Linked DNA regions of Homo sapiens. The protein of the gene in region 1 purifies or fractionates together with the protein of each later gene. This does not show direct contact. Each region holds a gene or a part of one and is shown in the gene's direction. Other genes may lie near its edges.

Region 1 (7,338 bases):
GCCAGCCTCTGTCTAGGCCACCAAACTCTTCCACCTAGATGTTACCCAATCTCCCCCCACCCAGCCTCCTGAGTAGCTGGGACTACAGGTGTACACCACCACACTCAGCTAATTTTGTTTCATTTTTTTATTTAGCAGAGACAGGGTCTCCCTTAGTTGCCCTGCCCTGACTGAAATGTCCCTAATCCCTTAGTGACCACAGGGATTTTTTTTTTTTTTTTTAATGACAGTCTCTCTCTGTTGCCCAGGCTGGAGTGGTGTGATTATAGCTCACTGCAGCCTCAAACTCCTGGGGTCAGGCAATCCTCCCACCTCAACCTCCCGCATAGCTAGGACTACAAGTATGCATCATCACGCCGGCTAACTTTTGTATTTTGGGTAGAGATGGGGTTTCACCATGTTGCCCAGGCTGGTCTCAAACTCCTAAGCTCAAGCGATCCTCCTACCTCAGCCTCCCAGAGTGCTGGGATTATAGGCCTGAGCCACCTTGCCCAGCCCACAGGGGACTTCTTAAAGGCATAAATCAATCTGATCCCTCCCCTGCTCATAGACCCTCCATGGCTCCTCATTGCTTCTCACAGGAAACATAAGACATTCTTTCTGGCGTGCCCATTCTATTCTTGTACCCTAGCAGGGTCCCATAACTCCACCATCACCTCCTTTCTCTCGCCCTGTCCCAACCACGTCAGCCTCCTCGCTCTGCCACCAGCACCCTAAATTTGTATCCATCTCAGGGCCTTTGCACATGCTCCACTCTGTCTGGAATGCCCTTCCCCACAGTCTGCTCAAGTGAATTCCCATCATCCTTCAGGACCTCCCTGATCCTAGGTTGCTCAGGTCCCCTGTGGACCTGCCTCAGTAACAATTAGTATGGCTGTCACTAATTGTTAGTATCATTTACAATTTTTTTTTTTGAGACAGCATCTTGCTCTGTTGCCCAGGCTGGAGTGCAGTGGTGTGATCATAGCTCACTGCAGCCTTGAACTCCTGGGCTCAGGTGGTCCTCCCACCTCAGCCTCCCAAGTAACTGAGACCTCAAGCACATGCTACCACAGCCTGCTAATTTTTTGTTTTGTTTTGTTTTGAGACAGAGTCTTTCTCTGTCATCCAGGCTGGAGTGCAATGGTGTGATCATAGCTCACTGCAGCCTCCACCTCCTGGGTTCAAGTGATTTTCCTGCCTCAGCCTCCCGAGTAGTTGGGACTACAGGCACCCATCACCATGCCTGGCTAATTTTTGTATTTTCTTTTTTTTTTTTTTGTAGAGAGTGGGTTTCCCCATGTTGGCCAGGCTGCTGTTGAACTCCTGACCTCAAGTAATCCACCTGCCTTGGCTTCCTAAAGTGTTGGGATTATGGGTGTGAGCCACTGCGCCCAGCCTAATTTTTGTGTTTTTTGTAGAGACGGGGTTTCACCATGCTGCCCAAGCTGTTCTACTTATTGTTATATTGAGGGCAGGGCTGGCTTGGTCACAGCTGTATCCCCAGCATCTAGCATACAGTAGGTGCTCAGTTAACACTCTAGGGCTGATGAGCACTGTGACAGTTAACAGGATTGGACTCATGCACGTTCACGGATATTCACCTGTCTGTGCCCCAGGTGGCCGAGAGTTGGCCAGGTTCTCTTTGAGGGATGTTTGGTGCCATCCATGACGCAGTCCCTTGTGACAGATTCTGGGAGGCCCTGAGGTGTTGGAAGGGAGTCTCCCAGTGACCCCGAGTTGAGGGACGTATGAGATGGGCATACTGCACCCATCAAAGTTCTGGGTTCCGGCTGGGGACGGTGGCTCATGCCTGTAATCCCAGCACTTTGGAAGGCTAAGGTGGGCAGATCATGAGGTCAGGAGATCGAGACCATCCTGGCCAACACGGTGAAACCTTGTCTCTCCTAAAAATACAAAAATTAACTGGGCGTGGTGGCGCGTGCCTGTAGTCCCAGCTACTCTGAAAGATGAGGCAGGAGGATCGCTCGTATGCAGGAGGCGGAGGTTGAAGTGAGCCGAGATTGTGCCACTGTATTCCAGCCTGGGCAACTCCATCTCAAGAAAAAAAAAAAAAAAAAAAAGTCCTGGGTTCTGATACTGCTCCATGCTGTAAGTGGGAATAGCTGGGGAATCAAGGTAGCCAGGATGGTGGACTCATGGTCACTGAGGCGGTCACCACACAGCTAATATGCATCAAGCCCTTTTGCAGTCAGGGAGCAGTGGCCCCAGTGTGTGTGTGTGTGTGTGTGTGTGTGTGTGTGTATTGGAGCAGGAACCTCAGCACCCCCATGTCCTAATAAGGAAACTAAGACTTCACACAGAAAGGCAGGGCACAGTGACTCATGCCTGTCATCCCAGCCCTTTGGGAGGCCGAGGCAGGTGGATCACTTGAGGTCAGGAGTTCAAGACCAGCCTGGCCAACATGGTAAAACCCCGTCTCTACTAAAAATACAAAAAAATTAGCCAGGCATGGTGGCTCACACCTGTAATCCCAGCTACTCAGGAGGCTGAGGCAGGAGGATCGCTTGAACCCATGAGGTGGAGGCTGCAGTAAGCGGAAATTACACCACTGCACTCCAGCCTGGGCAACAGAACAAGAGAGAGAGAGAGAGAGAGACGCTGTCTCAAAAAAAAAAAACAAAATTAAAAAATTTAAAAAATTAATCCCCAGCAGGGAGGGCCAGGGCACCTGTCAGAGCCAACAGGGGTTGGAGTGCTTTGAAATGGGTCTTGCAAGGGGTGGAGGAGTTAAGTGGGGGGTGAATTTCAATATTTTGCCAACCTGAGCAACTGTACAGGTGCAACCAGATGTTGGGGGCCACAGGAAAAGCGCTTTGCTCATGGCGAGTGTTCAGTGAGTTTTGTTTTCCACAGGAGCCGCCCAGGAGGCTCCTCAGGCCGACCCCAGACCCTGGCTGGCCAGGATGAAGTATCTCCGGCACCGGCGGCCCAATGCCACCCTCATTCTGGCCATCGGCGCTTTCACCCTCCTCCTCTTCAGTCTGCTAGTGTCACCACCCACCTGCAAGGTCCAGGAGCAGCCACCGGCGATCCCCGAGGCCCTGGCCTGGCCCACTCCACCCACCCGCCCAGCCCCGGCCCCGTGCCATGCCAACACCTCTATGGTCACCCACCCGGACTTCGCCACGCAGCCGCAGCACGTTCAGAACTTCCTCCTGTACAGACACTGCCGCCACTTTCCCCTGCTGCAGGACGTGCCCCCCTCTAAGTGCGCGCAGCCGGTCTTCCTGCTGCTGGTGATCAAGTCCTCCCCTAGCAACTATGTGCGCCGCGAGCTGCTGCGGCGCACGTGGGGCCGCGAGCGCAAGGTACGGGGTTTGCAGCTGCGCCTCCTCTTCCTGGTGGGCACAGCCTCCAACCCGCACGAGGCCCGCAAGGTCAACCGGCTGCTGGAGCTGGAGGCACAGACTCACGGAGACATCCTGCAGTGGGACTTCCACGACTCCTTCTTCAACCTCACGCTCAAGCAGGTGCGCTGGACTGGGGTCACCTGATCGGGGCCACCTGTCCTTCTTGTCCAAATTACCACCCACTCCTGAGGGACCCAGGGGACCAGAAGTCCTCGTCAGTCCATCACAGCCCATTCTGCCCCTCTGCTGTCCTCACCAGCCTCGTGGAGACCCAAAATGGTCTTCTTCTAGGAGAGGCTAGGGGGAAGGGCAGAGGAGCTAGGTTACTAGCACAGAGCTCAAGCCTGATGATGCGGATTCGAATCCAAGCTCTGCCTCTTACTTGGTGTTCGACCTTGGAGGAGTTCATTCACCTCTCTGTGCCTCACTTTTCTCACCTGGAAAATGGGATGTGAATGAGTCCCACCCACCTCTAAGGGCTACTGTGAGGTTTACAGGAGATGGAGTTTATAAGGCACCCAGACCAGTGCTGGATGTCCAACTCAACTTGGCAATGACGGGGGACACATCTCCTTGTTTATTTTTATGTTTATTTATTTTTTTTTAATGGAGTCTTGCTCTGTTGCCCAGCCTGGAGTGCAGTGGTGCGATCTGGGCTTGCTGCAACCACCTCCTGGTTTCCGGCGATCCTACTGCCTCAGCCTCCCAAGTAGCTGGGATTACAGGCACTCACCATGCCCAGCTAATTTTTGTATTTTGAGTAGAGACGGGGTTTCACCCTGTTGGCCAGGGTAATCTCGAACTCCTGACCTCAGGTGATCTTCCCGCCTCGGCCTCCCAAAGTGCTGGGATTACAGGCGTGAGCCACTGCGCCCGGCCAACATCTCCTTGTTTATTTGTTCCGGTTCTGTCTCCCCATGAGGCTGGGGGCCTTGTCTGTTTCACTCACTGCTGTGTCCCTAATGCCTAGAATAGATTCAGGTGCACAGCATGTGCTCAGTCAAGACCTTTTTGATGGACAAGAACCCATGAGAGGTAGCTAGGCTTGGTGGCTCATGCCTGTAATCCCAGCACTTTGGGAAGCTGAGGAGGGAGGATCGCTTGAGCCCAAGAGTTTGAGGCCAGCCTGAGCCACATAGCGAGACCTCATCTTTTTCAAAAAAAATTTAATTAATTAATTTTTATGTTTTTTTAATTAATTTTTTTTTTTTGGATGGAGTCTGGCTCTGTCCCCCAGGCTGGAGTGCAGTGGTGCAATCTCGGCTCACTGCAACCTCCACCTCCCAGGTTCAAGTGATTCTCCTGCCTCAGCCTCCTGAGTAGCTGGGAATACAGGTGCATGCCACTATGCCCAGCTAATTTTTTTGTACTTTTAGCAGAGATGGGGTTTCACCATGTTGGCCAGGCTGGTCTCAAACTCCTGACCTCAAGTGATCCTCCTGCCTTGGCCTCCCAAAGTGCTGGGATTACAGGTATGAGCCACCACGCACAGCCTCGTCTCTATTTTTTTAAAAAAAGAAGCCATGAGAGGTGAGAAAATCCTGCCCATCTGCAGATGAGGAAATGGAGGGGCTCTAAGAACCCCTCCTAGGTCCTCGAGTAGAGCAAGACAAGTAGAGACAACATTTTCAAGGAGGAACAGGGAACTCTGCAGGTTCCTGCTCATAGGAGGTACAGACAGGCCTGGGTTCAAGTCCTCTGGTAGCTGTTTCTCTGCGGGTGACCTCACTGCAGTTTTCTCTGGAGAGCCTCTGTTCCCTCATCTGTAAATAAGATAGAGGACCACTTCTGCCTCCTAAGGGTGCATTCAGGATTCAAGGTAGGGTAAGCACCAAGCACAGCGCCCGGCAACAAACAGATACCCAGCCTGTGTAGGTTACTGTAGGGGAAACTGAGGCTGAGGCGGGTAGGGGCCATGGCCTCTTAACATGCTGTGTTCTGAAAACACAAAAGTGGCTAGGCACAGTGGCTCATGCCTATAATCCCAGCACTTTGGGAGGCTGAGGTGGGCGGATCACTTGAGACCAGGAGTTCGAGACCAGCTTCTTGGGAGGCTAAGGCAGCAGGATCGCTTGAACCCTGGAGGCGGAGGTTGGAGTGAGTTAAGATTGTGCCACTGCACTCCAGCCTGGGTGACAGAGTGAGACTCTGTCTCAAAAACAAAAACAAAAAACCCTTTAAAAGTGTGTGATAAACATCAGCTTGACAAATATGAACCCAGCACCCGTGAAGCACTGGCACTATGCTGGGTGCTGAGGGAGATGGCATGAACAGAAAAGAGAGACACAGGCCCAAGGAGGGAAGTCCAGTGTTTGGTGGGAGAGGGGGATGTTAACAATCACACAGGTCAGGCACGGTGGCTCACACCTGTAATCCCAGCACTTTGGGAGGCTGAGGCAGGTGGATCACCTGAGGTCAGGAGTTCAAGACCAGCCTGACCAACATGGTGAAACCCTGTCTCTACTAAATACAAAAAATTAGCCAGGTGTGGTGGTGCATGCCTGTAATCCCAGCTACTTGGGAGGCTGAGGCAGAAGAATTGCTTGAACCTGAAAGGCGGAGGTTGCAGTGAGCCGAGATTGCACCACTCCACTCCAGCCTGGGCAACAAAAGCGAAAACTCCATCTCCAAAAAAATAATAATAATAATAATAAAATAAAAATCACACAAAGGCCAGGAGTGGTGGCTCATTGCTTGTAATGTCAGCATTTTGGGAGGCTGAGGTGGGAGGATCCTTTGAGGTCTGGAGTCTGAGACCAGCCTGCGTAGCATAGCAAGATCCCATCTCTTAAAAAAAAAAAAATTATTAGCCAGGAGTAAGTAGCGGCATGTGTCTGTAGTACCAGCTACTTGGGAGGCTGAGGTGGAAGGATCACCTGAGCCCGGGAATTTGAGGCTGCAATGAACTATGATCATAGCGCTACACTCTAGCCTGGGCAATAGAGCAAGACCCTGTCTCAGAAACAAACAAAATTCATACAAATGATTATTTAACAACAGGGCTTGGCCAGGCAGAGTTGGAAGGAATAGCAATACATGTAAATGTAACAATTTTCCAGCATTTCTTGGTGCTTCATGGAGCATGGTCTCCATGGATTCCCCAACACTCCTAGAGGCACATGATAAGGCCTGTTTGGAGAGTTGAAACCAAGGCACAGAGAGGGTTTCCCAAGTAACCCCACAGGGCAGGGCCTTAACCCAGGCTGGATTGTGGACACTTCCTTTCCTGGGCTTAGTGGGCTGGAGTGGCTAATAGAGACCCAAGGCCAATTTCTCCAGCCCTCAAGCAAGCATGCCCTGTCCACCCTGCCTGCAGGTCCTGTTCTTACAGTGGCAGGAGACAAGGTGCGCCAACGCCAGCTTCGTGCTCAACGGGGATGATGACGTCTTTGCACACACAGACAACATGGTCTTCTACCTGCAGGACCATGACCCTGGCCGCCACCTCTTCGTGGGGCAACTGATCCAAAACGTGGGCCCCATCCGGGCTTTTTGGAGCAAGTACTATGTGCCAGAGGTGGTGACTCAGAATGAGCGGTACCCACCCTATTGTGGGGGTGGTGGCTTCTTGCTGTCCCGCTTCACGGCCGCTGCCCTGCGCCGTGCTGCCCATGTCTTGGACATCTTCCCCATTGATGATGTCTTCCTGGGTATGTGTCTGGAGCTTGAGGGACTGAAGCCTGCCTCCCACAGCGGCATCCGCACGTCTGGCGTGCGGGCTCCATCGCAACGCCTGTCCTCCTTTGACCCCTGCTTCTACCGAGACCTGCTGCTGGTGCACCGCTTCCTACCTTATGAGATGCTGCTCATGTGGGATGCGCTGAACCAGCCCAACCTCACCTGCGGCAATCAGACACAGATCTACTGAGTCAGCATCAGGGTCCCCAGCCTCTGGGCTCCTGTTTCCATAGGAAGGGGCGACACCTTCCTCCCAGGAAGCTGAGACCTTTGTGGTCTGAGCATAAGGGAGTGCCAGGGAAGGTTT
Region 2 (8,271 bases), on another chromosome or scaffold:
TACACAAAGTGAGATAGCATTAGTGTAAGGTAGATTGTGATAAGAATGCATTTTGTAATCTCTCACCCCATCACTGGGGTGCAGTAGATCTAAAAAGCCATTAGAGAAGATAAAATGGGTCACTAAGAATTATGTGATTAGTCAAATGAAATCAAGGAAAGAAAAACAGAGCAAAGAAGTGTAAGATAAAACAGTGGGATGGAAGAGCTGAAATTAATAATGTCACTAAATTGCTTACCTTCCTCCTTCCTGAACTGTTGTGGATTTTTTTTTTTTCAGGGGGTTGAGGTTTTTTTTTAGAGACAGAGTCTCTATTGCCCCAGGCTGGACAGCAGTGGCGTAATCAGTCTCAAAATCCCTGCAGTCTCAAACTCCTGGGCTCAAGTGATCCTCCTGCCTCGGCCTCCCAAAATGCTGGGATTACAGGCAGGCAGAGCCACCACACCCTGCCAGAACTATTGTTTTAAAGTCATTAGGTGGTTAAGCCCTCGAGACTATGTGCAAGTTTGATGATTCGTTAGGAGCACTCACAGGACTCAGCATATAGTCTTATTCCCAACAATGATTTATTAGAGCAAAAGGATATGAAGCAAATTCAGCAAAGGGAAAAAAGGAATTAAGTGAAGTCCAGAGGAAACCAAGCACCAGCTTCTAAGGGTTCTCTCCTAATGAAGTCACACAGGATGTCACTCCAGCAACAAGTGACAGCATGTGAAAGTGTTAAGCCTCACTGTTAGACATAGTAAGCTTGTTAGGGAATAGAGGGAATCTCCCCTCAAATTCAAGTTCCCAGATGCCTGGCAAGGGCCAACCTTGCCAGCAGGACTTTCTGGGGATAGCAGTCCCAGGCACGTGTTTGCACAGTGGTTCAGATCAATGTGCTTACATTGGGTAGAGGGGACCTATGGAAGTCCAAATTTGGGTGTCAGAGACCTAATAGGGTGAAGACAGTGTCTACAATGATGGACAGCTAGGTATGAGGTGTCAGGGACAGATTGAGGCAGTTATTCACATGGTGGATAGGGGCAACCTGGAATGAGGAATAAGCTCAAGCACAGAAAGGGGTGTCCATATGGGGTAAGGGTGTCAGCAGAGATGGTAGATTGGTTGCACACCAAAGACTTGATGGAATAAAGTGAATATACTAACCACAGAGAAGGTAATTATAAATACAGAAAGGGGGGAAACTAGAATGAAACCTGGAGTTCAGCTTGAATTGGGTTTAAGAAAGTGAATTCATGGTTTAAAATCTATAAAAATAGATGAAATATCGGCTGGGCACAGTGGCTCACGCATATAATCCCAGCACTTTGGGAGGCCGAGGCGGGCAGATCGCTTGAGATCAGGAGTTTGAGACCAGCCTGGCCAACACTGCGAAACCCCATCTCTAGTAAAAATACAAAAATTAGCCAGGTGTGGTGGTACACACCTGTAGTCCCAGCTACTTGGGAGGCTGAGGCACGAGAATCACTTGAACCTGGGAGGCAGAGGTTGCAGTGGGCTGAGATCGCACCACTGCACTCCAGCCTGGGCAACAGAGCGAGATCCTGCCTCAAATAAAAATAGAGGACATATAAGCATATAAATATACACGTGTGTATGTGTCCAAATATGTATATTCCCTAGTCTGTCCACCAAGGTGGCCTTGGAGCAGTTATGCTCCAATAATAATGAGCACATAAAGTACCCATATCTTGCCTTCCAAATTCTTCACTGTCTTAGTCTGCTTGGGCTGCATTACAAAATACCATAGACTGGGCAGCTTAAATAACAGAAATTTATCCTCACAGTTCTAGAAGCTTGGAAGTCCAAGATTAAAGTACCAGCCAGTTTGGTTTCTAGTGAGGGCTTTCTTCCTGGCTTGCAGATGGCCACCTTCTCACCGTGTCCTTGTATGGCAGACAGCACAAGCTCTCTGGTGTCCCTTTTTAAAAGGGCATTAATCCCATCATGACAGTCCCATCCTCATTATCTCATCTAACCCTAGGTACTTCCCAAAGGCTGAATCACCAAAGACCATCACATTGCTGGTGAAGGCTTCAACATATGAATTTGAGGGACACGAATATTCAGTCCATAACATCAACTAAAGGAACCAAGACTCTTTGATAAAATGGCTAAATTCAGGGCTGGGGCAGAGAAAATACATGAGTGTGGAACTTCTTGTGCCAGAGAGAAAAAGTGCCCAAAGATTGATGAGGATGAATCATTGAAATGACACACAGATTAAAAGGGTTCCCACTGGACAAATTTGAGCATCAAAATAAGTAATAGTAGTAATTAATTATAACCCATCAGAAGAAATAAACCATGAGCTCATGTGAATATATGAATACAAACATAAACAAATTACAAGCATAATGAGGAATGTGATATTTATATGGTTTAAAGGTACCTCTCCAGGCCGGGTGCAGTGGCTCATGCCTGTAATCCCAGCACTTTGGGAGGCCAAGGCAGGTAGATCACCTGAGGTCAGGCATTTGAGACCAGCCTGCACAACATGGTGAAACCCTGACTCTACTAAAAATACAAAAATTAGCCGGGCGTGGTGGCACGTGTCTATAATCTGCCACTGATTAGGTGTGTGATTTTCCCAAGCAGGGGATAATAGTAGTACCTATGTCAAAGGCTGTTATGAGGATTAAATGAGCTAACACATAATCGTGCTTTTTTTTTTTTTTTTTTTTTTTGAGACAGAGTCTTGCACTGTCGCCTGGGCTGGAGTGCAATGGCACGATCTCGGCCCACTGCAACCTCTGCCTCCCAGGTTCAAGTGATTCTCCTGCCTCAGCCTCCTGAGTAGCTGGGATTACAGGCTCCTGCCACCACACCTGGCTATTTTCAATAGAGACGGGGTTTCACTATGTTGGCCAGGCTAGTCTCAAAAACCTGACCTCGTGATCCACCCGCTTTGGCCTCCCAAAGTGCTGGGATTACAGGCATGAGCCACTGCACCCGGCTTTTTTTTTTTTTTTTTGAGATGGAATCTCTCTCACCCAGGCTTCATCTCAGCTCAGTGCAACCTCCGCCTCCTGGGTTCAAGCAATTCTCCTGCCTCAGCCTCCCGAGTAGCTGAGATTACAGGTGCCTGCCACCACACCCGGCTAAGTTTTATATTTTTAGTAGAGACGGGGTTTTGCCATGTTGGCCAGGCTGATCTCAAACTCTTGACCTCAAGTGATCTGCCTGCCTCAGCCTCCCAAAGTGCTGGGATTACAGGCATGAGGCACTGTGCCTGGCCTCAAATTCTTAGAATACTGCCTACCACATATTGAATGTTCATTAAATCCTAGGTATAGGACAGGGGTGTTGGCTCATGCCTGTAATGCTAGCATCTTGGGAGGCTGAGGCAGGAGGATCACTTGAGCCCAGGAGTTCCAGACCAGCCTGCGCAACATAGCAAGACCTCTCCTCTACTAAAAAAGATTACTGTGGCTGCAGTGTGGAGAACAGATTGTCGATAGATGATAATACCTACGATTTTATTTATTTTTTACTTCTTATTTATTTTTTTGAGATGAAGTGTTGCACTGTTGCCCAGGCTGGAGAGCAGGGGCACGATCTCGCCTCACTGCAACCTCTGCCTCCCGGGTTCAAGCAATTCTCCTGCCTCAGCCTTCTTAGCAGCTGGGATTACAGGCACCCGCCACTACGCCCAGCTAATTTTTTTTATCTTTAGTACAGACAGGGTTTCACCATGTTGGCCAGGCTGGTCTCAAACTCCTGACCTCGTGATTCGCCCGCCTAGGCCTCCCAAAGTGCTGGGATTACAGACGTGAGCACCACACCTACTCAGTTGTTCTGTATACCATTACATGTTCAGCAACCCTAATCCAACCATCTGAAATTAAAATGCTCCAAAATCAAAACTTTTTGATCATCAACACGATGCCACAGTGGAAAATTCCACACCTGACCGCATGTAAAAAGCTGTAGTCAAAATTTTGTTTGATACACACACAATTTTTAAAATTGCATAAAATTACCCTGAGGCTATGTGCATAAGGTGTATACGAAACATAAATGAATTTCAAGTTTAGCCTCTGGCCCCATCCCCAAGATAAAGAGCCACAATCTGAAACAGTTCTGGTCTTAAGCATTTGGGATGAAGGATACTCAACCTATACCCAGTTTTCTACACGACACTACTTATGAATATCTTTTAAAAATTTCTTTATCCCTACTTGTTTTCTGTCTTCCCTACCAGAATATAATTTTCACGAGACCAGTATCTGACAAACACACGTGCTACATATTCAATCTTTATCGAATGAATTTAATATTTTCCAAGTTTTCTATAATTAACATTACTTCTATATTATTAATTTTATAGAGAATCCAAATAGCATTTTATTAAGTAGACCATTAGTCGGTCCGAGTTCAAATTCTGCTACTACAGCAAACTATATGTAGGACTCAAGGCAAGTTTCTTTTTTTTGAGACGGAGTCTCGCGCTGTCGCCCAGGCTGGAGTGTAGTGGCGCGATCTCGGCTCACTGCAACCTCCGCCTCCTAGGTTCAAGCGATTCTCCTGCCTCAGCCTCCAGAGTAGCTGGGATTACAGGCGCGTGCCACTACGCCCGGCTAATTTTTGCATTTTTAGTAGAGCCGGGGTTTCACCATGTTGGCCAGGCTGGTCTCGAACTCCTGACCTCAAGTGATCCGCCTGCCTCGCCGCCGAAAGTGCTGGGATTACAGGAGTGAACCACCACGCCTGGCGGAGGCAAGTTTCTTAATCTTCTTTCCTCACTTGTAAAACTGGAATACTGTCCATTTTCATAAGGTTAAATCATACAACACAGGTAAAAGCGCTTCAGCACGCAACGAAATTTTTCTAACGTAACGAAAAACTCCTCGTTGCTCCTTGCCTTGCCCTTAACCTCAACGCTTCAGGTCCCGACCAATCTCTCGGAGAGCTCAGAGGGAGCCGCTCTAGCCGCCTTCCGCCACGGAGTGCAGGGACAGCCGGGAAGGGGACGGAAGCCGGAGGCCAGAGCACGCACTTCCTCCCACGCTTTCCTCACAGCCAATCGCCCACTGGTGCCCCACCCCTTCCGTTCTGGGAAAACTCGAGCACCCAGAACGGCTTCCGGCGGGAGCTGTGCAGCTCCTTATCATGGTGAGTTGGCTGTTGGGGTGAGGGTTTCGGCTGTAGCTGATTCGGTTTATCTTATTTGGTCCCGAAGCGACCTTGAAATCCCTCAGCCACCCAGAGGAGGGGTCATTGGAGTTGAAGTCGGGCCCCTTGGCAGGAGCGGCTGTCTCCCAAAATGTTCCCCTTCAGAGTTCTGGTCCCTTTCGGTCCCTCACCTGTTCCGCAGGCGCTCACGATCTAGGCCCCGCTGCAGGCAGAGCTTTCAGCTCCTGGCGAGTTTCTGACTTCCCTCTGCCGAGATTTCTTTAAGGTAATAAAAGTTTTTGCCAGCGTCAACAACTAGGCCACCAACAAAAGATCTGAAAACAAGTCCACAGCAACAACTGTAATAGTGATTCTTAGAGCAGTGGCGATAACGCCAGCGGAAAAAAAAAAAAAAGGTTAGTAATAGGGTTTTAGGGCAGACGTCTCACTCTGCAACTTGGCTTTACTAAATATTAAGTAGCCTGATTACGGCAGCAAATTTCATAAGCGCAGTAACTACAGAAAGTCAAGGTGTTGGTAGGACATTTTATTGCTGCTTTATTTCTGGGTTTGTAGAAACTAATGGAAGACCCAGTAGACGTTATGGTTGTTGGGATATGGTGTTTTCTCTCAAATTTGTTAGAATTAGTCATTCTTTGCCTTTAGAGCTCAAATATATAGCTCTGAACTTTAAAGATAAGCAGTTGGTTGGGATTTGAAGTGTCCAAGTGGCGTGTGCCTTTTGAAAATGCATTTATTAGAAAAATTTATGGAGTACTTATTGATAGCCTACGTATGAGAAAGAGACCACATTTCTGTGCCTAAGCTTTTGTCACTGTACTAAGTTTTTTACTTAAGTGGATATGGTCGGGAAAATGCCTCATTCACACACTTTATGTTTTGTAAATTTTCTGTAATCCTTTTGCACACAGAAAATGGGTAAAAGTTTACACTTTTTGGCTAATGATCAAATAGCCTTCAGTTACGCTCTTCTTCAAAACATTCACCATTGTGAAGCCTGTAGCCAGAGTTATATTTCTAAAATTTGACCACATCACTCCCTTACTCAAATTTTCTCCTTTTTTTTTTTTCTGTAGCACTCAAGATAAAGTCCTGTTTAGCATGGCATACAAAGCCACTCATTATCAAGCTTCTTACTTTTACAGCCTCTTTTTTTGTTGTTGTTTTCGAGACGGAGTTCCACTCTTGTTGCCCAGGCTGGAGTGCAATGGCGCGATCGCGGCTCACCACAACTTCCGCCTCCCGGGTTCAAGCGATTCTCCTGCCTCACCTTCCCGAGCAGCTGGGATTACAGGAATGCGCCACCACGCCTGGCTAATTTTGTATTTTTAGTAGAGACGGGGTTTCTCCATGTTGGTCAGGCTGATCGCGAACTCCTGACCTCAGGTGATCCTCCCGCCTCTGCCTCCCAAAGTGCTGGGATTACAGGCGTGAGCCACCGTGCCAGGCCACAAACTCTTTTTTTTTTTTTTTTTTTAATGCATACATGTATGCAACATCCGTATTTCAGCCACAGTGAATAGCTTGCAAATCATGCTGTATTAATTGAGCCTTTGTACCTAATTTGCATATGCTCTTCCATCCCCAGAATTGTTCTCTGTTCTCTATCGGCTGTCCTTATCAGAATAACCCTTATATATCCTTAATTATTTTTCATGAACCTTTCCCTCATGTTCCAGTATCCTCTTAGTTGCTTCTCCTTTGTGCTCTGGTGGTACCTTGTGCTTTTATATGCACAAACACACACACACACACACCAGTTTTGTTACATAAAGCTGCACAAAACGAATACATACAATAGAAACTTAACTTGCCTATAATACTGATGATTTGAAGGGAGTTGAAGATAAAGGGATAAGAGACTTAAAATTCAGAGGTCTTTCAGATTATACACCTTCATTAACTCACAGCCCTAATTTAAGAAAGTAAAACTTGAATCTCTTGTGTTTTTTACCAGTAACATCTGTAATCCTTACAGACGATGTTAAAGTTGTGTACTTATTTGTCTTTCTCACTTTCTAGACTGTAAGCTCATTGAGAGCAGGACCTATGTATTTCACCCTAATTCCCAGAGCTTTGTAGCGTGCCTGGCCCAGAGGAAGTTTTCAATAAACATCTGTTTTATAAGACACTGAAAACTTATGGCACTATATCTTTATGCTTGAAACATTAGTATTAGTCATGCAGGGAAACAGTATTTAAGGTTTATTTTAAAGGATATTGAGAAAAGGTTTTGCGTTTATTAAGAACATGCTATGTGAAAACAGTACTTTCTTAGAAAATATAAAGAAAAATACAAATAAAACGTCTGTTTTATAAAGCACTGAAAACCTATGGCACTATATCTTTATGCTTGAAACATCAGTATTAGTCATGCAGGGAAACAGTATTTAAGGTTTATTTTTTAAAATAAATATTTTAAAATAAAATATTGAGAAAAAGGTTTTGTGTTTATTAACATGCTGTGTGAAAACAGTGCCTTCTTAGAAAATATAAATAATATAAATATATAATATTAAAAATATAAGTATATAAAAACAAAATATAAAGGAAAATAGCCCTTGTCATTAGTGAAGTTACTAAAATTACAAAGCAATGTAACAAGTTGAAGGCTTTACTTTGGTTAATGCAAAATAAGTGGCATAAAAAACACTATAGTTTGGAATGATCTAGGAAGACTTCATTTAAGAAGTGAAACATGAAACTAAGTACTTTGTGCCCCACTCTAATACTCTTAATCTAATACTTGTTTGTCATTATATGAATAAGAGCTTGGGTTAGACAGATCTGGCCTTTTCACGCAAGAGTGGTCATGAGACAAAAGAGTAGACCAGTTTAACTGAAGTTGAGGGTTTCTATCTGGAGTAAGAGATAAGACTGGAAAGAAACAGGCTAAGTCATTGAAAACCTGGAAATTCAGGTTGTAAAATTTGTAGTTTATTCTGATAGCAATGGCGAGCCAATATAATTTTGGGAAGAGTGATATGACATTAGGATTTTTGTTTTATTTTCATTGTCAGGATGGCATCAGAAGTGGCTTTCTGCCTCTTAGAAACCTTGTTGATTCTCTTAACCTGAAACTTAAAGTTGGCTAGGGTTAAACAGAAGATGTCCAAAATAACAGTATTAAGG
Region 3 (7,761 bases), on another chromosome or scaffold:
AAAGTCTCAGCCAGGCAGATGGGGGATTCCCAAGCACGGGTTGTGTCCTATATCATGCAGATGTGGCCAGGTTCTGGTACCACACCATGCTCGGTCACTGACTGGGAGTAGCCAGAGGATACCACAAAGGATCCAAAGGCATAGCCACTGGGAGCTGGCAGTCAACCGTGTTTCCCCTAAAAGTTTCTCCCAAAGGGTAATCTGAGCAATGCACCTCATTTCCAACACAATTCCTTTCAACCAACTTTTTTAAATTAAAATTTTTTCTTAATTTTGAATTTTTTAGGCATGGTATCTTGCTTTATTGCCCAGGCTGGAGTGTAGAGGCTATTCACAGACACCATCGTGGTGCACTGCAGCTTCAAATTCCTGGGCTCCAGTGATCTTTCTGCCTCAGCCTCCTGAGTAGCTGGGACTATAGGTGTGTGCCACGGTACCAGGCTCAGCCAGCATTTACTAAATACCTTCTGTGTGCTAGGCATTATGTGTGTTGAATGATAGAAACATGGCCTCATGGCTCCCAGGAAATCCCACATGACTGCAGAACAGTGGGGTCTATGAGTTTTCATCGTCAATTCAAAGGAAGATGTCACAGTTTGGAGGATGCCACTGACAGCTTCATGGCAGAGCTTGGCTACAAGTTGGGCAGAAATGATGGGTGGGGTCTAGGTCGTTGTAGGAAAAAGGAGGAAACATATTGGAAGGAGAGAGCAGGGGGACAGGAGGACCACAGACTGACAGAGTGGATTAGGCAGGAGATAAGGAAGGCTTAGAAGTAAAATAATCTCGAAAGAGTACAATATTTACTTTAAATGTCTTTTTTTTCCTAATAAGGTAACGATTGTTTTAAAGAATTCTGATGTTGTAGAAATATAGAATGTAAACTCCTTGAGATCAATGGCTTTGGATATTGTTTACCTCAAATCCCCAGAATCTAGCACACTGACTCCCAGATGGTAGGTGATCAATAAATATTTGTTGAAAAAAAAACAAATAAATGGAACAAAAGTGAAAGGACCACAGAATCTCACCCATCAGAAGTAAATATAATATAGTTAATGGTTTGGTAAATATTCCTTTAGATTTTTTCCCCTTTCATATGTTAATATATATTATTTTACAAAAATAGGATCATACTATTCATATAGCTCCACGACTTGCTTCTCTTTTCTTTACAATGCATCTTGAACACATGTGTATGTTAAATGCCTACAACTAACTCATGCTTGCAAATAGCACTGTGGTATATTATGGTATTGTACGGATGTGCAATATTTTATTTTATAATCTCTTGATGGAAATTTGGATTGTTTCCAACTTTTTGCTTTTATATACAATACTGCCATAAGCTTCCTTGTATGCATATCTTTTGAGCACTTACGAGTCTATGTTTGTTGGATAGATTCCTAGATGTGGAATTGCAAAATCAAAAAGATGTTAATATTAACATTTCTAATAAATGTTGCCTAATTGCTTTCCAAAAGGTTATACTAGTTTGCATTCCTACCAACAGTGGATGAGAGTGTTTTTTCACATCCTTGCCAACACTGGAATTAATAGCCATTTTCATTTTTGCCAGTCTGATAGGTGAAAAAATATTTCAGGGTAGGTTTATTTTGTATGTATTTTAGAGAGATCGAGCATATTTTCATACTTTTATAAACTATTTATATCCTTTTGGGTGGGAACTGTCTATTTAAATCCTTTGACCATTTTTATTTCTGTTTGTTCTCTTTATTTCCCTATTGATTCACATACTGGGTAAATGTCATCTGCAAATATCTCTTTCTGACTTGCCTTTTGTTTCTGGACTTTGTATTATACTGGAAGCCTTACAGAATTCAAAATTTTTATATAGTCACATTTAGAAATATTTTCCATATGGTCTCTGGTTTTTCTCATTCAATACTTTTATAATTAAATTCCTTCCCTTCCCTTCCTTCCTTCCTTCCTTTTTTTGCTTATTTACTGTGGCATCTTCAGATCATTTGGAATTTATTTTGATGTAAAGTGTGATGTTGGGACTTGATTTGAATTTTTTCCAAATGGTTATCAAGTTGTCCCAATTATTACTTGAATTAGGCACATGTTCCCCACTAATATTTGAAATACCACATCTACCATAGATCATATTAAACTCTAAAAGGAATGTAATAACTCCTATGAAGAGAGCTAATATGACAAATTAAAAGCATCTTCTAGAGATATCTACTTGTTGGTGAGCAGCCGATGACATAACATGGTACTGTTAGTGAACAGATAAGCCCCCTAAAAATAGCAATAAACCCAAGGGCTTTACCTCTGTTGAAAAGATGCTAGATTTCCAACAAGCTCCCAGGTGGTACCAATGCTTCTGGTCTAAATATCATACTTCACTCAGCAAGGTGCTGGACATCTTCCCTTTGCCTTACTGACACTCTCTCCACTCTGTTTTGTGCCCCGGGAGGCTGACTGTGCAGACTGTATCACTCAATCTTCTCAACAACCCTGTTCAGGTGGTGCTATCATTAGATCACCATTTAATAGATGAGCAAATTGAGCCGAGATAAGTAAAGCAACTTGCCTGAGGTCACACTGCAATTCGTGATGGGGCTGGGTTGAGCTCAGGCAAGTGGGCTCCAAGGTTGTGTTCCGACCTCCTAAGCTAAGCTGCCTTTGCATCTCATTGCAGCCTGCCCAACAGTGAGTGGTGTGGTGGGAAATCCTGGACTGTGAGTCAGGAGACCCAGATACAAATCCTCCCTCTACCGCTTGCATGTTGTGTAACCTTGGGCAAGTTGCTTCACTTCTTGAGCCTACATATTCTCATCTGTCAACCTTGCAAGGTTGTCATAGGGTGAAATGAGAAAGTACATGAAAAAGAAAGTCCAGCAGTTTACAGCACACAGTGTGTGCTCAGTAAACAATAGCTTTTATCTGTTACCTGGGGCTTAAGTCCATGTCTTGTAAGGCCTAATTGCATTTCTCTTTTCTCTGTATCTGAACCTCTATTGAGAAGCATTCCAATTTGGCAAGCGGATCCAAGACATTATGAATTGTAATCCTTGTCTGTTTTCTAATCTGACCGCAGATCTTAAATGTGTTGGGTGTCTGAACAGAGGCCAAAGGGCTCAGGTCCAGACCTACCTAACACAACCGCCTTCTGGCATTAACCAGCAGCCTCCATTCTGCGTGGGAAGCAGGCGGGGCCCTGAGCACTGTGGGAAGAGCCACTTCCCTCTAGTCTAATATTAGCAGCAGGTTGTCCTGAGTGGGAGCTGCTTTGCATGGTTCATCCCAAAACCCACCCCCCTCCTGCAACCTGAGGGAGATTTCCTCTGGGGATACCAGTAGCCAAAGGCTGTATGAAGACAACAGCAAGTCAGATTCTACCTCTACCTGAGCCGCCAAGTTCAAGGTCCTCTCCCCACCCTGTGTCTCAGACCCCGCATTTATCAATGAGATAATTGGACCAGATTTGTGCTTTTTAAACTTTCTGGGCTTCTGGTCTCCTTGAGAATATTTGATAAAAAGCTTTGGACCAACTTCCCATGGTAAAACAAACAACAACAAATAGAGCTTACACTCTATCCTTCTACAGGGGATACAGAATGATTCTTTTCCCTGAGCTAGACACCAGCAGAGGGAGTTCCAGATTAATTTAAGATATGATTTGAAATCTCTGCTATCACTTTTACATTCAGATATCTGTGTAGACATTACTTCATCAGAGAAGCTTTCCAAAACCCCCAAACTAGATCAAGTTCTACTATTCTAAGCCCTTTTAGCGCCCTGTAATTCTTCTTCAAAATACTTAACACAATTCTAATTATCTTTTTAATATTTGTCTACTCCATTAGACTTACTTCGTCCCTGGCAGCTCAAGGCTCCCACAGCAGTGATCTCATGAACAGGGCGGCAGCTTCATGGCCTTTTTTGGTTGTTGTTTAATAGAAACAGGATCTCGCTTTGTCATCCAGGCTGCAGCGCAGTGGCGCATAGTTCACGGTAACCTCCAATTCCTGGGCTCACACAATCCTCCTGCTTCAGCATCCTGAGTAGCTGGCACTATAGGCACGTGCCACCATGCATGGCTAATTCTGAAATTTTTCTGTAGAGATGGGAGTCTTGCTATGTTGACCAGTCTCGTTTTAAGCTCCTGGCTTCAAGTGATCCTCCTATCTCGGCCTGGGATTACAGGTGTGAACTATCATGTACAGCCTTCATGGCCTTTTGCTCCTAGCCTCAGAGGTCACAGAGCTATCACGAGGCGAGCCAGGCGAGGGTTTGCTATTCAAGGACTCCAAAGAGTATGGCAGAGGCTGGGCCTGCAGAAGTCAGTGGGGCAGCGTGGTGTCTGTTGATCTCATCGCACCTCCATCTCCTCATCTGTAAAAGGGAGCTCGTAATCCTAGTTGATGGTTGTTTTATTGGACTGTGTAAAGATCAGATGAGATAATGGCAGTAGAATTCATAACACCCTGCAGGGTGTATTCAGCCAACACTTAGCGCCTACAATATGCCAGGCGCTAAGGGTTTTACCACCACTATCTCTTTAATAATGCACCATAGCCCAAGAAGGAAGATGCAAGTCTCAGCCAGCCCACTTGAAGACCCTGCCGAAATGAGCCACCCCGGGGGCTGCGCTTGGGCTGGCGCGGGGCTGGACGGAAAGGGGGCGGCGCGCAGGTGGGGCGGGCCGGGGGCGGGGCGGCACGGCGGTTCCGGGATCCGGGTCCTGGCCTCCACCGCCGCCTTGGGGCGCGCAGATCGCTGGCTGCAGTTGGCGGGCGCATGTGGGGGCGCACGGCGCGGCGGCGCTGCCCGCGGGAACTGCGGCGCGGCCGGGAGGCGCTGTTGGTGCTCCTGGCGCTACTGGCGTTGGCCGGGCTGGGCTCGGTGCTGCGGGCGCAGCGTGGGGCCGGGGCCGGGGCTGCCGAGCCGGGACCCCCGCGCACCCCGCGCCCCGGGCGGCGCGAGCCGGTCATGCCGCGGCCGCCGGTGCCGGCGAACGCGCTGGGCGCGCGGGGCGAGGCGGTGCGGCTGCAGCTGCAGGGCGAGGAGCTGCGGCTGCAGGAGGAGAGCGTGCGGCTGCACCAGATTAACATCTACCTCAGCGACCGCATCTCACTGCACCGCCGCCTGCCCGAGCGCTGGAACCCGCTGTGAGTGCACAGCTCTGGGGAGGAAGCCCGCCCTCAGAGCCCCGGGCCTCAGTTTCTCCATCAGAGCAGTGGCAGGGCGGGGAGCTGGGGTCTCCAGGATGGCGCGTCTTATTGAGTCTTTCTCCGAAGACGATAGTGTAAGAGCTCACATGGGGGCGGGGAGGCAAGAAAGTAAAAAAGACGAAAGTAGAAAAAAAATTACCAGAAATTGGCAAGTCTGTTAGTGATCTCTTAGCTCCCTTCTCCTTGAGAAGTTATCATCTCCCTGAAAAGGTGAGGGTCAGGGCTAAGCAGAAGGGTTTAAGGCGAGGACCCCCCAGCACCCAAAGGACAACCCCGCTCTGCCCGCCTCGCAGTGCCTCCGCGAAACTGACAACTCCTCCGGGCGGTGACCGGCTCCATTCATTCTCTGTGTGTGCCAGGGCCTAAGGGACAAACAAGATGCGAGGGAGCGCCCCACAGGTGAAGCGAAAGATGGCTGTAAGGCCCCCTCAGCGCTAGAAAGCCTCCTTGTGCTCTCCCTGGGCATTGGATTTCTGAGCTTTGGGTGGAGGAAGGCGGGAAGGGGCACGGGGTGGGAAGGGCTCCTTCTGGCCGTGATCCACCCCAGCTCACTCCTGTGGGTGGTGCTGGACTGGAGCCAGCGTGGTCAGAGGCCTAGTTCCTGTTGGAGCTACTGGCTGGGCAGGTTGCGCCCCTGCCTAGGTGGGGATCCAGGGCACACGCTGGCAGCAGGAGGAAGGACAGGTGGCTGCTGCCACCTTTGCCGCTGGGCCTCCCGGGCTCTCACTTTTTCTTCGAAGTGTCAGGGATCTTCCAAGTCCTTTTTTGAGCCCCTTCCTTACAGACTTTGAGGAAAAGAGGACTCAGAGAGGGGGTTCCCATTGGAGCTGGTGGTGGCAGCCTGCCGTGTGCACCAGGCACCTGCCACTCCTCTCCCCTTCAAGCCATTCCTGCTTTACAGGTGTGGAAATAGGTTCGGAAAGGATAGGTGACCCACCCAAGGCCCCTCAGCTGGAATGTGGTAGGACTGGTCTGGAGGGACTATGGCCCTTCTGGCCCACTTGGCACCATGCTGATCTCAGGATTTTAGGGGCCTGCTCCATGGTACCTTGGCCAGAGAGACCATGAATGATGGAATGAGGATGCCCCACCTCTGCCCCACTGTTTCCACTGTCTTCCCTGTTTTGGGGATCTCCTCATGCCTAGCCTCATGCTTCTGCCTGAGGCATTTTTCACTGTTAGTCTTTTTGAATAAAACTTTGTTGGGATTGATAGTAGTTCCTCCACTCACCAGCCTAACGCATGTTTAGCTCCTCGAAACCCCGAGGGTGCCCGCTGAGGCAAGGTGGAGGGGAAGCTTTCAGGTTATACCCAGCTTCAGATTAAATCCAGCCCAGGGGAGATAAAATCCTGGTTCTTTTGCTCGTCACTTCTGTGATCTCTGGCAAGCTGCTTAGCCTCTCAGAGCCTTGGTTTCCCTTCGTTTGCGAAATAGGAAACTCATAAAAGTGAGTCTCCATGCATTCTACATAAAAGTGAGTGGAAAGAACACAACTTAGGAATTAATAAAGCATCAATACCTGGGAGCACACTGTGTGCTTAAATCTTAGTTTTTTCACCTTTCCCTGTTGCCAAGAATGTACTCAAGAGGTTGCTTTTGAGAGTCATCCAGGGATTGGTTGTAGTTTTTCTTTCCTGGATCCAACTTCCTTTATTGTCGCAGGTTGTGAATATCTCTTTGAAACACTGTGGACAATCTGTGGGGCTTATGGTAACCTGTCTCCATGGTGACGCAGCTGCCCTGTGTCCTCTCAGGATTTGCTTGTAGATCCTGCTGTTGCATTGACCCTGGAAGTTAAGCCAAACCCAGCATGATAAGGAGTGTGAATGCCTCCTGCTTCTAATTCCTGCAGCAAGGCCTGTTGGGTTATTCTTACCCAGCCAGAGAGAAAGGTGAGCCTGAGCTGTGTGGGTCTCTGTTGGGCCAGGCTTTGAGATGTAACTTCAGAGTGGTCAGTAGGGTCAGGGTATTTTGTGGCATCTCACTTTTATTACAGTTCATCCAGGAGCTAATCAGGGTCTTGAGATTTTGCCTGAGAAACCTGAATGGCAGATCATAAGTTCACAGTGTGGGTATGGGGTTCTCTGCGAGTCTAATAAACAGAGGGATAATGAGGGTCCTTGAATGTTGCAGGAGGGAGGGCCCTGAGGGAGGAGCATCTAGTCTAACCAGAGAGGAAAAGCCACACCCCCAGGTCACATAGCACATCTCAGGCAGAGCCACAGTCCATATCTGTTACTCGTTCCTCCCTTTTTGGGTGGGGATGATTATTTCTATGTTTATTTTAATTATGAAAGCAATGCATATTCACTCTAGAAATGTTGGCATGCACAGAGAAACAGAAAAGGAAAAAAATGAAAATCCCCAATAAACCTACCACTCAGGGAGAACCATTGTTAACATTTTGCTGTGCCTCCTAGACTTTTAATGAAAGTCTTTACTCTGCAGTGCCTTTTATCAGAGGAAAGGAGTTGGGAATGACTAAGGGACCACTTGGTTTGACTCTTCCTGGTGTCAGCAGGGTGTGGCACTGTGTCTGCCTTCTTGAAGAAG
Region 4 (7,338 bases), on another chromosome or scaffold:
TGGAGATCCTCATAGTCATGATTTTTTCATATAGTGCAGTGCTGGATTTAATTTACTGGTATTTAGAATTTTTGTAAAAGTGATATTTTTGACTTGGATAGCATCCACTCTTTTTCTGTCCTTTAGAATAGCCTGTATAAGATGTTGCTCGGTGGTTTAGTCATTTTTAGGTATGCTGTGGAGAAAGGATTCTGCATTCTTTTGCATTTAGCTTTTTCTACCTGCTTTAATGTAATTTTACTGATTCTGTTACCAAATGCAGCAGCTTTCTTGTGTCTGCCTTAATGTGAGCATTTGCATATGTCTTGTTAATCTTTGTTAGTGTGTGTAATAGTACTTTGAAAAATTTTGGGCATGAATTTTGTCTTTGTTGTTTACTGCCTCATCTCCCGTGCCTAGAATGATTCCTATAATAGAAAATGTTACCAATAAATATTTCTCAAATGAATGAATATCATTATCTGACCTCTTTGGAGATATCTGTATACTTCCAGTCAGTACTTATTTTCATTTCCAGTAAGGTCTATCACTTTCCTCTATGCTTTCATTACCTTCTGGTACTCCATAGCAGAAACTCAGGATTGTTTTAACAAATGTGTAACACTTTTTACAAGTAAATGTTTATTGAATTGATCTGAGTTTAGAGCTGATTCTTTGCGCTAGTGTCAGTATAATTGTAACCATTTATATAATATATTTTTACATACCTTCTGTCCTAACACTTTGTTTTCTAGGCCACGGACACAGTCATTCCCTCTTTAATGGTGCTCTAGATCAGGCACATGGCCATGTCGATCATTGCCATAGCCATGAAGTGAAACATGGTGCTGCACATAGCCATGATCATGCTCATGGACATGGACACTTTCATTCTCATGGTGAGTACAGCCTAGAGACAAATGGACAGCCTCCAAATAAACAAGAGTTTTGTGGATTACTTTTCCTAGTTGAAATAGTTTATTAAAAAGATACCAAATCAACTTCTTTTCTAATGAATCAGTCTAAATGGTTCCCAGGGCTAGTTTATTTTTTGTATAGCATGAAATTAACTCAGTATAAGGCAGTGGATGTTCGCTTTTTTCCAGAGGGTATATCATAATAAAATGCCACTTTTTTATGTATTTATTTTTAATTTTTAATTTTTGTGGGTACATAGTAGGTGTATATATTTATGGGTTACATGAGACATTTTGGTATAGGCATGTAATACATAGTAATCACGTAAGGGTAAATGGGGTTTCCATTCCCTCAAGCATTTATCCTGTGTTATAAACAATCCAATTATACTCTTGGTTATTTTAAAATGTACAATGAAATTACAAATTGACAATAGTCACTCTGTTGTGCTAGCAAATACTAGGTCTTATTCATTCAACTATTTTTTTGTACTCATTAACCGTCCCCCTTTCCCTCCCCTCAAATGCCACTATTTTAAATGAGTACTAGTGAATGAGGAACAATTGCATTTTAGGAAATGAAAATCATAATTTTTTAAGCATCACGAGGCCTTTTGTGCTATATTGGCTTATAAAAATATGGTGGAGGTTTTCAATTTTTCACATTTGTATTATAATTTTTGATGTCTGTCACCTGATGTTTACCTCTATGTTTTTTTTAGAAATCTTTGGATGCTAACTTATGTAGCATTGGGTACTAAGTTATGAGGTGTTTATCAACTTAATATTTTATTTTGAATTATATTTTACATAGTTTATAAAGTATAGCTTAATAGAAGCTGCTTGGGTGACACAATTTGATTACTCTCAGTAGAGTGTATGCTTAAGTATTATCTTGTATTTGCAACATAGACAGAATCCTAAAGCTTTAGAATTGAAAATATGAAAGGGACCTTGAAGAGTGAGCCTTCTAAGCCCTTCATTTTTCAGTCTTTGAAATTTTTCCATGAGGCAAGAAAATAGCTTGAACCCAGGAGGCGGAGGTTGCAGTTAGCTGAGATCACGCTACTGCACTCCAGCCTGGACAATAGAGCTAGACTCTGTCTAAAAAAAAAAAAATTTCTAACTACTCTATTGAGATATGATTGACATATGAAAACAGATAAATATTTAATGTATACAACTTGATGAGTTTGAGGTAAGTATGCACCCATGAAACCATCACTATGATTTCTCCAATAAACATATCCGTTCCCACTGAAAGTTTCCTCCTACTCTCAATTCTTTCTTTTCTTTTTTCTTTTCTTTTCTTCTTTCTTTCCCTCCCTCCCTTCCTCACTTCTTTTCTTTTTTCTTTTCTTTTCTTTCTTTTCTTTCTTTCTTTCTTTCTTTCTTTCTTTCTTTCTTTCTTTCTTTCTTTCTTTCTTTCTTCCTTTCTTTCTTTCTTTCTACTTTTGCAGTAAGAGCACTTAACATAAGATCTACACTCTTGGCAGATTTTTAAGTATACAATACAGTATTAGCTATGGGCACTATGCCATACAAATCCCTAGGACCTATTTATTTTGCACAACTGAAACTTTGTACCCTTTGACTAATATTTCCCCTTTTCCAACTTCCTCCAACCACTGGCAACCACTATTCTATTCTCTGTTGCTATGAGTTTGACTATTTTAGATTCCTTATATAAGTGATATAAATGTAGTATTTGTCCTTCTGTGTCTGGCTTATTTCACTTAGCATAATGTCCTTCAGGATCATTCATGTGTCAAAATTAGAAGGATTTCTTTCTTTCTTTAAGGCTGAATGATATTCCGTTGTATGTATATACCACATTGCTTTATCCATTCATCTGTTGATGGACATTTAGCTTGCTTCCATGTCTTGGCTATTGTGAATAATGCTGTAGTGAATACGGAAGTGCAGATATCTCTTTGAGCTCTTGATTTCAATTCTCATGGATATATACCCAGTTTGCTGATCATACGGTAGTTCCATTATTGTTTTTTTGAGGACCCTCCATACTGTTTTCCATAGTGTCTGCACCAGTTTACATTGCCACCAGTAGTATACAAGGGTTTCCTTTTCTCTACAGCTTTCCCAACACTTACTGTCTTTTGCTTTTTTGGTAATAGACATCCTAACAGGTATGATATGATATCTTATTGTGATTCTGATTTGCATTTCCCTGATGATTAGTGATGTTGAGCATCTTTTAATGTACCTGTTGGCTATTTGTATGTCTTCTTTGGAGAAATGTCTATTTTATTCCTTCGGCCATTTATTACTTTTTTATTTTTTTAATAAATTTTTTTATTTTTAATTTTTGTGGGTACATAGTAGCTGTATATTCTTATTATTTATTTATTTATTTATTTTTGAGATGGAGTCTCGCTCTGTCACCCAGGCTGGAGTTCAGTGGTGCGATATCGGCTCACTGCAACCTCTGCCTCCCGGGTTCAAGTGAATCTCCTGCCTCAGCCTCCCGAGTAGCTGGATTACAGGCGTGTGCCACCACACCCAGCTAACTTTTTGTATTTTTAGTAGAGACGAGGTTTCACCGTGTTAGCCAGGATGGTCTCAATCTCCTGACATCGTGATCCACCTGCCTTGGCCTCCCGAACTGCTGAGATTACAGGTGTGAGCCACTGTGCCCAACCAGTAGGTGTATATTGTTATGGGGTACATGAGATGTTTTGATACAGGCATGCAGTGTGAAATAATCACATCATGGAGATGAGGTATCCTTCTCCTCAGGCATTTATCCTTTGTATTACAAACAATCCAGTTACACTCTTTTAGTTATTTTGAAAGGTACAATTAATATTGACTGTAGTCACCCTGTTGTGCTATCAAATAGTAAATCTTATTCATTCATTCTTTTTTTTTTTTTTTTTTTTTTGTACCCATTAACCATCCTCACTCCTGCAGCACCACACTACCCTTCCCAGCCTCTGGTAACCATCCTTCTACTCTCTGCTTCCATGAGTTTAATTGTTTTGAATTTTTGTACTCCACAAATAAGTGAGAACATGCAATGTTTGTCGTTCTGTAACTCTTTGACCATTTTAAAATCAGGTTATTTATTTACCTTTGCTGTTGATTGTGAGTTCTGTATATATTTTATCAGATACATAGTTTGCAAATATTTTCTGTCATTCTGTAAGTTGCCTTTTCATTTTGTTATTTGGTTCCTTTGCCTTGCAGAAGCTTTTTAATTTGATGTAATCCTTCTTGTCTATTTTTGCCTGTTGCCTGTGTCAGTCTCTAAAATATCCTGTATTTTTATAACAGTTACACTGGTATGCTTTAAAACCTTGCTTTTCCAACTTTTTTGCTCACATGCATCCCAAAATAATGTTGAAAAACTGCATATCTCTTACACTTTTGGCTATCAGCTGGATTTTTCAGGGTAGCTACTTCTTCATTCCCATACAGCAGTACAATATCTAGATAGGAAATATTATATGGTGTTATGCTTTTATATTTCTTTGTTACATTATTGCAGAACATTGTTATAATGCTCTATCAAAGCTGTACTGATAAGGGTACCTTGACCTTTTTGGTGCTGTGGGCCATGAACAAATGATGATAGTAGGTACATTGTTAGTTGTGATCAGAAAGCTTGTCAGTCTTCCTGATGATCTGTTTAAACAAATATTGCTCATCTTTTGCCTTGTTTTCCTATATTTTCTGTTTTAATGTTAAAGCTGAATAGTAATTTTCAAGATGTTTAGAGATAGAAATTATAGCATTTTGTCATCATAAAAGCAAAATGAAAAAAATTATTTTTATCTCTTCTGTATCAAGAGTTTGCCACATTAATCTAGAAGCTGTTGAAAACTACTGTTTACCATAGTCAAGTTATCTTTCTATCCTGGCTTCATTTCTTGGACCTCATAACTTCAAGCAGTACATTTGGGTTTCTCTGAATTTTCCAATTGTAAGAGTATTAAAAGATATTTTATGAATACTGGAAGATTTTCACAATGTCTTTAATTTCCTGTGCTTTTAATCTTTTTAATACAATAATTTCTGAAATACTCCATACTTTTGATGAATTTTAAAACTACTGCCACTAAATTTACCTCCACTCAATTATTTTATTAAATTTAAAAAATAAATTTGTAAGTTTGATATGGCTATATAGCCATGCATTCTTGATGATGCATTTGAATGAAAAGGACTCTGAATTGTAAAAACTTGAATGAGGAATTGAAAACATGTTTTAAAATAACTTAATTCTCTACAGATGGCCCGTCCTTAAAAGAAACAACAGGACCCAGCAGACAGATTTTACAAGGTATGACAAGCAATTTTTATGTTTCTTAGTTTTTTGAAACTGCTTTTATAGTTTTGAAGTTTTAGTTGTCTGAAGTTTTCCTTTAAGAAAAATATAAAACATAGTGTTTGTGTTTAGTGTTAGCCTTTCTAGTGATTGTTTTTTATATACTATTAGATATATTAGCAGACATTCTTTTAATTGTCACTTGACTGTTTTCTCTGATTTGATAATAAAAGCAAAATATAGAGCTGGGTGCACTTGGCATGTCCCCACAATCCCAGCTACTCAGGAGAATTGCTTGCTTGCGCCCAAGAGTTTGAGACCACCCTGGGGAACATATGAGACTCGTATCTCAAAAAGATTCGGAAACTATTCTGCTTGAATATAAGTAATACCCATGCCTGTGACTATAAACATTGTATAGATGCTTCTTGATTTACTGTGGGGTTGTGTCCTAATAAACCCGTGGTAAATTGAAGATACTGTAGGTTGAAAATGCATTTAATACACCTAACCTACCGAACATCATAGTTTTGCCTTGCCTACCTTAAATGTGCTCAGAACACTTGCATTAGCCTACAGTTGGGCAAAATCATCTAACACAAAGCCTATTTTATAATAAAGTGTTGAATATCTCATGTAATTTATTTAATACAGTCCACTGTAGAGTACAGTATCAGTTGTTTACCCTTGTGATTGCTTGGCTGACTGGGAGCTGCCGCCTGCTGTTGCTGCCCAGCATCATGAGAGATGATCATAGCACATTATTGCCAGCCCAGGAAAAGATCAAAATTCAAAATTTGAAGTATAGTTTCTACTGAATGCATACTGCTTTCACACCATCATGAAGCCAAAGTCATAAGTTGATCATTTTAAGTCGAGGACTGTCTGTAGGAGTATGTTTGCTTTTACAGGATTATTATGTAGTTTTTCCAAGAATAATATTTAATATGTTTTTATGTTGTGGGAAAATTTAGAGCTAAAGATTTAATGCAAAGTGAGAACTCCATAATATTTGTAGGCCATCAATAGCTAATACATGTGTAAAATTGTATATTACAAAGTTTTACATGCCAGAGAAAATCCTGTCTATGAATTATAGTAATTTTTTTTTGTTTTGTTTTGTTTTTGTGGGTGGGGCGGTAGGTTATTAATCAATCTCTGGCTCTGAGTTTCCATTTAGACTTTATTGTCAGGGTTTCCTAATTCCCAGCTATCTACTTGCCTTTATTAACTTTTGACTTCAGTCTGACTTTCTGAATGGCTTCTGATCCAATCTCAACTGCACCTATTTGTCTTCACTATTTCTTTATATAACTCTCGTTTTTTATTTTTTCACTGTGAATATATTCCTTCATACTGAGAAATTTATTTTCAGAAGGCTTAAATGTGTCTTCCAATCACAGGTTTTCCATTTACAAAAGATATGGAATTGTTTTAGAATAACATTTGCTGAAATAACATATAATCATGCATATATGATGCATCTATATCAAGTACTATAAATTAGCCTTGATAATAAGAATTTAATTTTGAAAGTCATCACAAGTTGGAGGAAAGGAAGTTAGATTTGCCTTTCTAATTCTCTTTTATATAAGTTATTGTGAAAATAAATTTATATTTTCTGAATATTTATCAATTTATGGTGGCTGAAGAGCCCAGTAAATAGCTGAAGAACAGAGAAAACTACCTGGCATTAAAAACTTCTTGTAAAATGACCAGGTAGATAGATACTCATACATGAAAAACTTGAATTAATTATGTTTTTCAATTATATGCTACATCTTGACTCCTGGCTTACTAAGGTTTTGGGGGGTTAGGTTATCAGTATCCTACCACATCTTCTAAGGCTTTTAACTTTGTATAAGTTAAACATCCTAGTTTATGTTTCTTTCTTAGTGATTTTTTTCTTAAACAGTTTATGTAGTAAGAAGGCTTTAGGTAGTTTTAATGACACTTACTAATAAAACCAGTTTTCAGGTTAGCAAATAAATGGTAGCCAGGGACTTTCCAGTCTAAGGAAAATCAAGAACAAATCATTATTTTCTTACAAATCATTATTTTCTTTTTCTTTTCATGTTTAGAGTTATTTTCATTTTTTATTCTACCAAAACACTGATTAAAGAATATAAAGGCTTAAAAGCATGTATCATATAT

What was found.
Region 2: the proteins of B3GNT3 (region 1) and SLC30A6 purify together in Homo sapiens (affinity purification with mass spectrometry; 3 studies listed by BioGRID and IntAct, with this or other methods). This does not show direct contact.
Region 3: the proteins of B3GNT3 (region 1) and GALNT12 purify together in Homo sapiens (affinity purification with mass spectrometry; 2 studies listed by BioGRID and IntAct, with this or other methods). This does not show direct contact.
Region 4: the proteins of B3GNT3 (region 1) and SLC30A7 purify together in Homo sapiens (affinity purification with mass spectrometry; 2 studies listed by BioGRID and IntAct, with this or other methods). This does not show direct contact.

Annotation. Positions count from the first base shown.
Region 1 is NC_000019.10:17,804,902-17,812,239, forward strand, and holds part of B3GNT3 (N-acetyllactosaminide beta-1,3-N-acetylglucosaminyltransferase 3), read left to right. Parts: intron 1-2,856; 5' UTR 2,857-2,906; coding exon 2,907-3,473; intron 3,474-6,669; coding exon 6,670-7,221; 3' UTR 7,222-7,338. UniProt on the Homo sapiens protein: Beta-1,3-N-acetylglucosaminyltransferase involved in the synthesis of poly-N-acetyllactosamine. Has activity for type 2 oligosaccharides.
Region 2 is NC_000002.12:32,160,786-32,169,056, forward strand, and holds the start of SLC30A6 (zinc transporter 6), read left to right. Parts: upstream 1-5,078; 5' UTR 5,079-5,115; coding exon 5,116-5,118; exon of another isoform or gene 5,119-5,404; intron 5,405-8,271. UniProt on the Homo sapiens protein: Has probably no intrinsic transporter activity but together with SLC30A5 forms a functional zinc ion:proton antiporter heterodimer, mediating zinc entry into the lumen of organelles along the secretory pathway.
Region 3 is NC_000009.12:98,802,926-98,810,686, forward strand, and holds the start of GALNT12 (polypeptide N-acetylgalactosaminyltransferase 12), read left to right. Parts: upstream 1-4,744; 5' UTR 4,745-4,773; coding exon 4,774-5,144; exon of another isoform or gene 5,145-5,281; intron 5,282-6,139; exon of another isoform or gene 6,140-7,034; coding exon of another isoform or gene 7,035-7,100; intron 7,101-7,761. UniProt on the Homo sapiens protein: Catalyzes the initial reaction in O-linked oligosaccharide biosynthesis, the transfer of an N-acetyl-D-galactosamine residue to a serine or threonine residue on the protein receptor.
Region 4 is NC_000001.11:100,912,929-100,920,266, forward strand, and holds part of SLC30A7 (zinc transporter 7), read left to right. Parts: intron 1-734; coding exon 735-878; intron 879-5,148; coding exon 5,149-5,199; intron 5,200-7,338. UniProt on the Homo sapiens protein: Zinc ion transporter mediating zinc entry from the cytosol into the lumen of organelles along the secretory pathway.